2 linked regions of the Homo sapiens genome follow. The protein of the gene in region 2 purifies or fractionates together with the protein of the main gene of each other region. This does not show direct contact. Each region holds a gene or a part of one and is shown on either strand. Other genes may lie near its edges. The genes, in order: CA12 and SLC7A10.

Region 1 (3,812 bases), on a different chromosome or scaffold from region 2:
ACCAACCTAAATAGGTCTTTGTGGCTGCTGGCTTTGCAAGTATGACCTTCCTGAAGAGAAACCCCTGAGGACATTGACTCTTGATACCCACATTTAGAGTAACTATAGAACCCAATCTGATAGGGATGATTGACAAATGTTAAATAATTATAGGCCTGGAATCACAGAGTGAAGTGCAGAGTTTAAGCTGGAAAAAAATATGACCACACTATAAACTAATTATTACAATATAATTGACACACTATCAGTGAAGAGGAACAGACTTTAAAAAAAGAAATTCCTCCAGGGCTCAAGCTTCTTGCTAACTACCAGATAGCAGTTCCTCCCCTGGAAATGAAAATAAACATGCTATGTGCAGATGAACTTTCCTACTCCCACAGGGAAAAAGTCTTTAAAGAATGTAAATCTATGTTTAAAAGATTATCTCCACGGTAATTAAACAGACTTTCAGGCCAAGGTTTCTCCAGAAAAGCAAAGAATTGGCATGTCATGGCTCGTTAGGGTAGACCCAGGGTGTCCTGTGGGCTCTATCAGAGCTGGGGATCAAGCTTTGCCATCTGGGGGTCCGTTCATCAGTATTTCAACACAAGGAAGGTGGGTAAATAGAGAAAAGGGGAAAGGAACACCACCTCTTCTGGGAATTCTTCTGTAGACCCCTGCACTGTTTCACAAGGGTGTAAATGTTATATTGGCCCCACAGAATCCCAACCCCCTACATCGTGCTCTCTAACTAGGGGACCGTATCTGAGAGTGGGAAGAATCCGAAGTGATACTTGGTACCCAGGTTCATTTCAAATGCTATGAGGCGTTGGTCCCAGGCTTAGTTAGTTCTTACTTCTAGGTCCGGACACACACATCGGAACCCTACTGATTTTTCAGGCTGTCAACCTTAGGCTATGCATTTTCAGAAATGTTACAGCATGACGGAATTGCAGAATCTCCAGTCCAACCTTTCACTGGACACCAGTCTTCTCACTTGGGCATGGCAGAGTCTCCGCTGAGCTCTACTATTCTTATTTTCAAGGCCTCAAAATAACTCAACTACACCAAGATGGTGACTAGGGAAGAGGGAGGCTGGAGGATATCAAAGCAGGCACTCCAGGGCCAAACTGGAGTAAGACAATTATTCAGCTGGGGGCCAAACCGAATGCTTTAGGGGCAGCGGGGAGCAGAATGAAGCAACCGTGAGGCCTCATGTAGAACCCCAGGGTCAGGAAGAGACACAGCACAGGGTAAGACTCCCTAAGTGAGGCTGCCAGCCTTTTCTGTGCTCACAATACTGCCTGGGCCCACAGCCAGCAGGGCGGAAGCTGCCAGCCAGGCATGAATGCAAAAAACTCAGGAAGTAAAGAGATGCATCATTGAGAAGCTTTCTCTTTGCACACATGACTAAAGGGAACTGGATTAGAAGGGTTTTCTTTTCCCACAGTGGAGGTTCAAAAAGGTTTCATCAAGAGGGCATTTTACTGATAGCTAAACGAGAGCCTCGTGAAGATAGGGACCCCTCATCTTCGTCTCTGTGAACCCATATTATAAGTAGGGTCACGTGCCCCCATGGGCATTTAGGAAACATTTTCCCAAAGAGTGAAAAAGAACAGAGGGCTTGGGAAAATGTGACTTGGGGAATGTTTCCTTTTTCTCTTGCTCTAAATACGCTTTATTGGAAGTTAGGACCAAATAAGGTATTTGGGGGGCAGGAAAGACTAAGGATATTAAAGGCAGTAGAGTTGGTGTTGGCAAAACCTGTCTTGGAAAGAGAAGCAGCTATGTTGGACCAGGGGAGTCCAGAGAATGAGATTCCAGCATCAGCTGTCCCAACACTTCAGTGGGTTATGTTCCCTGCTGGAGCCTCCATTGCCCTTCGTGCAAATGGTGGGGGTGGTGGGCGTAGTGGTGGGGATGGGATGTGTGTGGAAGCTATGTTCTGGAAGGTTCCTTCTGGCTCTTAAGCTCTGATATTTATTAAGAATACTAGGACTAAGCACCTTCTCCATCTGTCAGGCAAATTTGAATGAGTCAGAAAGGTTGCTCATGTCAAGGCAGCTACTGGGCATGTGACAAGGTGCCCAGGGGAACCAGCTTCGGGAATGAGGGCACAGGGCACCGGTGCTCCAGGACTGGCTGGGATCAGACAGCCATCTGCATCAGGAACCTGCCCTGGTCCTGGCTGCCATCCACAGCGGAGTTCGTCCTTGGGCACCAGTCACAGGTCTGTAGGTCAGCAAGGTCAAGAAAGCCTTGTCTTCGCCTCCTCCTCCTCCTCCTCATTGTTATTATATTGTAGTAGCTTTGATCCTTATAACTCTATAACCTTACGGGGTAAGCAAGGCAGAATTGCACCATTTTATGGGTGAAAAATAGAGATTTAAGAGATTTGCCGGAAGTTTGACTTTGGCTAAGTAACAGTTACTTTGCTTGGGTCACAGGACTTATGTGTCCTTCAGTATTTATCCAGGAGATTTTGTGCACCTGGAATTTCCTGGCTTCCCCACGCTGTCCTTGAAGACAAGGACCACGGCTCATCCATCGCTGCACTTCCCACAGTGCCTGGCACAGAGTGGGCCCTCACATGTTTACTAAGCTGAACTCTCAACACCTGTTTCATGCTTGTTCCTTTCCCAGGGAACGTGCACCCACCTTAATTCCCTCATGTATTTCTTCTCCTCAAAAAAGAGGAGGAAAAATGAGATCACTTGCTCAGGTTCAAAATGTACCCTCCTAGCTTTCTAGCTTACCTGTGTGCAAATGGTTTCTGTTTGGGGGCACTAATTGAAAAAGAAATCTGATTTCTGCCCTGTAGCCTGGGAGACGGCCTGCCAAGGAAGTTCATAGGGCCCTCCCCCAGCATGTAATGGCTAGTGGGTGTCCCCGCCTTGCATAGCTGGGGACACTGTCAGAGCAGCCTCCTGTCTTTGTGGCATGTGAGAGATAGAGGTGCCATGAGGGTGGGCACCGGGACAACCAATATCAGAGGTGACAACAGCAGGCCTTTCTGTTCCCTGAGCTGTGACATGTGACTGCACAGTGCTGGCCTTATGCTGGCCGCTACACCCTGGGCTACCATTTTCCAACTCAGTGTCAGCTTTCACACTCATGCCAAGTGCTCCACTGCCAGAAATCCTCCACTGGGAGTGACTCTCCTAAAAGAAGCATTTATTTCCAGCTAAAACTTTGCCTTTGCTCTTCTGAGTTTTGACTTCGCCTCTCCAGTTGGTTGGACTCCTCCCATGATCGTGATACAGGAGGATCACGTGTCTTTCACAGTTTGTTTTTCTAAATAAAGCCAAGGCATTATTTCTTTCCTGTCTATGTGTTTTTCCTGCTCTAGGCAAAACAGAAGTGGTCAGAATTCCTGTTTCGAAAGGTAACAAGAGATTAACATGGCACAGCTCAAAATGCCTCTCGTGATTTCTGATTGGGAATTTTGAGGCCCAGGGTGTAGGACCTGCATTATCCAAGGACCAGAATGTTTTTACAGAAAATTTCAAATGTATACAATGTAGAGAGAGGAGTGGAATGAACCCCATGTCACCCAGCTTGGACAGTTTACAATTCAGAAACAGTCCTGCCTCATCTATGCTAAGCCCATTCTCCCCTTATCTACCTGGATAACTGGAAACAAATCCAGATATATTTCATCTGTATATATTTCATATGTTTCTCTAAAACATAAGGGCTCTTAAAACCACAGTACCATGACCACACCTAGAGAGTTAAGAATTAATACCTTAAGATTACCGAATCCAATTAGAATTCAAATTTTTCCAAATAGGTCATAAATTTTTAACAGTTTGTAAATTTCAGGGTTCACA
Region 2 (3,812 bases):
CCATAGCACGAGCGAACAGCCAGCCCTGTTTATTTATAGGCCTTTTCAGGAAGAGCTAGCAGGGCAGTGCTAAGACAGGAAACCCAGTCCACATTTTAGGGCTTCCTTAAACAGGCTTCTGAGAGTCGTATCTTTTTTCTTTTTTTTCCAGAAAAAAACAAAACAAAACTTTTTTGCCAAAACACCTCCTCAATAAACAACATGTAAACAGAAACAACTGCTTCAGTCTCTACAAAAATCTCATTGTGGCTTCGAGGGCTTGTCTGTGGCAGGCAGCAGGGAGGGTGGGCAGGGGCCATTCTCCTCCTCTTCGGGGGCGTCCTGGGGGTAGACCACGAAACACAGCTCCTGGCCCCAGTGTGTCATGGACTCTGAGGACAGACAGATGGACCTTGGGGCCTGACCTCTCGGGATAGGGGTGACCCCCAGCTCCGGACACCTCCCCTTGGGCAGGGGTCTTCAGGGAGTTGCTCCGTCGGTACCCGTGGTTCTGGAAACTTTGGGTACATCTTGGGAAGAGACATTTGGTGGCGGCTGGGCCCTGTGTTCCCACCTCAGCTGCTAGGACACCCTGCTCTGGGGTGAGCCTCTAAGAGGGAGGTCTGGTCTCCAGGCCCCGGCCCCCTGTGCTGGGTGACCTGCAGCTGCCCGGCTCACCTGTGAGTCTGTGCACACACTTTGGTTTGCTTCTCCAGAACACTCCCAGAAAGAAAATGGGCACCCCCGTAAGGATGATGATGACGCCGACCCCACAGACCATAGGCTCTGAGATGAAGCTGAAGACCAGCAGGAAGGCCCAGAAGACCAAGTACGCCACGGGGATGAGAAGGTTCACCTGGGGAAGGGGGAGCAGAAACACCGATGGTGCAGGGCCTCCAGCTGTCTGTACCCCCGACCCCTGGGGGTCTGGGGAATTTTCCTCCCTTCCCTGGGAGCTGAGGCCTGAAGGGCAATTGCACCCACTACACCCCCTCTTGGCGACAGCCCAGTGTGTTGGAGGCCAATTCATGGGTCAGGCCGTTGGCCAGTTTTGCTGAGGATTTTTCAAAGTCTCAGCGGCACCGAGCTCCACACAGCGGTTGCGTGTGGACTTGAGGCTTGCACTTGGCTGGAGGTCAGTGATTTTTTGGTGTTTCACATTTCAGGCACTGAGCACTTCTCCACTTAAGGATTTATACACACATGGGGGGCTTTGCTTTTAGCTCAGGCTATGGTCTTCTGTTTTTGTGTGGGCTCATGAAATCCTGGCAGCCTTTGTGACCTTGAACAGTTCCTGAGTCTCATTTTCTTTAATTTTTTTTTTTTTTTGAGACAGGGTCTCCCTCTGTCACCCAGGTTGGAGTACGGTGGCCCTAGCACCGCTCACTGCAGCCTCAACCTCCCGGGCTCAAGCGATCCTCCCATTTCAGCCTCTCAAGTAGCTGGGACCACAGGTGCGCACCACCACACCAGGCTAACCCTTTTATTTTTAACTTTTTGCAGAGAGGAAGTCTCGTTATGTTGCCCAGGCTGGTCTCAAACTCCTGGGCTCCAGCAATCCTCCCACCTCGGCCTCCCAAAGTGCTGGAATAGGCATGAGCCCCTGTGCCCAGTCCTGAGCCTCATTTTCGCCATCTGTACACTGGGAGCATTCAAAGCTCTGTCCTCATGGGGCTGCTATGAGGAATGGCTGCCTCAGTGCACAGAGAGCCCTGAGCAGGGCCCAACACTCCACAAAAGCTGGCACCTCCCATCCCACCTGCCCCTGGTGCCCACTGTGGATGCAGGGGTGGCTCTGGCAGCACCCGGCACAGGGCCAGCTGTCCCAGGGCCTCACCTTGATGGGCCTGTGGAGTGCAGGCCGCCTCCAGCGCAGCAGCAGCAGGCCCAGGATGGTGACGCCGTAGCAGAGGTAGTTGATGAAGGACACATAGTTGATGAGCGTGTACGTGTCGCCCACGAGCATGATGACGGCTGTGGCCCCGCACTGGGAGAGGACCTGGGGCTGACGGCTGGCCCCTAGCCTGCCTCCTGACGCCCCTGCAGGATGAGCCCTGGCCCCACCCCCAACCCCCACCCTGGAATGGCTCACCCCTGCCATTACCCGGAAGGTCCTGCATTGCCGGGTAGCCCTGCCTCCACGCCCTGCCTGGCCCAGGTCCCCCAACTTACACAGACGAGGAGGGCGGGGATGGGGGTGCAGTGTCTGACGTGGATCATGGCCAGCAGGCTGGGCAGGTGCCCCTCGCGGGCTCCAGAGAAGCACAGCCTAGCGTTGGGGACAGATATGGGCACTGGCCACATCCTGGGTCTCAGCTTTGGACCTGATGTCCCTCTTAAGCTGTCGCCTCTGACCTCCTGCTCCGGGCCCAGCAGCCCCACTGGACAGTTCTCCCCCTCATCCAGCCTGCCTGCCTCTTGCTTTCTTTGCCTCCCAGTTGTGATCAGACACTTGTTACCGTGTGGGATCATCATCCCAGCTTCAGGCAGACCCCTCCCCCGGCAGGTGTCCCTTCCTCTGGCCCACGGCATGACTGGTGCACACCTGCACCCCAGCCTTCCCTCCCCATGCCCACGTCTCCCCAGTGCAGTCACCTGGAGTAGGTGAACAGGTAACCATTGATCCCTCCGAAGGTTGACAGAGCCACGGAGACAGGCATGACCCAAGAAAAGTAGCCCAGCAGCTTCTCCCCGAAGGTCTGGGTGGGCACAGTAGAGAGGCCATGTGTAAGGCCGGGGCAGGGGCCTGGGCAGGAGCCAGGGACCGAGCAGGGGCCCACTCACCACAGCCACCGCATTGGAGGAGAGCAGCTCCTGGGGGGACATGGCCGTGAAGTAGGCAATGTTGGTGAACGTGTACACGAAGGTCACCAGTGGGATGGAGATGAAGATGGCGCGAGGTAGGTTCCTGGTGACAGGCAGTGGAGTGCGTCAGCGTCAGCTCCTGAGGGTGCAGGACCCCCGAGACCCAGCCACGAGAGCAGCTCATAGTCTCCATCTCTTGTGTCTGCTGGGGATGTTGGGGCAGGAAAGGGGGCAGCATTGCTGCCCGAGACACAGGGACCCTGTTGTCTGCCCTGCCCCACCCCCACCTGGACACAGGCTGGTAGGATGGGAGATGGGGGAGGGGCCCCATCACATCCTGAGGACAGGGTCTGATGTCTGTGCAGAAAGATAAAATCGCATACAGCCAAAATCAGCCTGGAAAATTCCCCAAAATGGCCCCAGAGCCCAGTCCACAGACCCAGAGTCTTCCTGGAACTTTCCAGTCCCAGCTCGCTCAGCTGCAAAGGTTTACTGTCGAGATCCCTGGCCGAGCATCAGACGCAGTCATTGGCTTCATTTGTAGGGACCATATTGTGTGTATATGCATAATTTTAGGCCAAATGCAAATCTCTGGATCTATTTACAGCAGGATGATGATATTCAGCCTTTCTGAGGCCCTGCAAGGGGCTGTGACGTGTCCATAGCCAGAGAGAACAGGGCCAGGCTAGAATGCAAGCCCCCCGGCTTTCTTCCCAGGGCCATTTTTGCAGGGCAACAGGCGTGGGCCACCGAGGACCAGCCCGAGCCTTGGGTGGCAGTGGGGCTGGGCGGAGAGGCTGCCTGTCCCACCAGAGGGCCTGGCTGCTTCCCAGGGCCCAGTTGGGGGCCCCACTCACTTTCGGGCGTCAACCATCTCCTCGGTGACATAGTTGAGGAAGTTCCAGCCACTGAAGGCGAAGGAGCCCTGGAGGAAGGCCAGGGCCAGGTGTCCCACGGAGGGCGTCATCCAGAAAGCAAAGGCATTGCTGGGCCTCAGCTCCTCGAAGTGTCCTGGAGGCCCAGAAGTC

What was found.
Region 1: the proteins of SLC7A10 (region 2) and CA12 purify together in Homo sapiens (affinity purification with mass spectrometry; one large-scale study listed by BioGRID and IntAct). This does not show direct contact.

The regions. Positions count from the first base shown.
Region 1 is NC_000015.10:63,347,276-63,351,087, forward strand, and holds part of CA12 (carbonic anhydrase 12 isoform 1 precursor), read right to left. Parts: intron 1-3,812. UniProt on the Homo sapiens protein: Reversible hydration of carbon dioxide.
Region 2 is NC_000019.10:33,208,651-33,212,462, forward strand, and holds the end of SLC7A10 (asc-type amino acid transporter 1), read right to left. Parts: intron 3,796-3,812; coding exon 3,642-3,795; intron 2,888-3,641; coding exon 2,764-2,887; coding exon of another isoform or gene 2,679-2,763; coding exon 2,575-2,678; coding exon of another isoform or gene 2,249-2,574; coding exon 2,152-2,248; intron 1,967-2,151; coding exon 1,817-1,966; intron 836-1,816; coding exon 658-835; intron 372-657; coding exon 241-371; 3' UTR 14-240; downstream 1-13. UniProt on the Homo sapiens protein: Associates with SLC3A2/4F2hc to form a functional heterodimeric complex that translocates small neutral L- and D-amino acids across the plasma membrane. Preferentially mediates exchange transport, but can also operate via facilitated diffusion.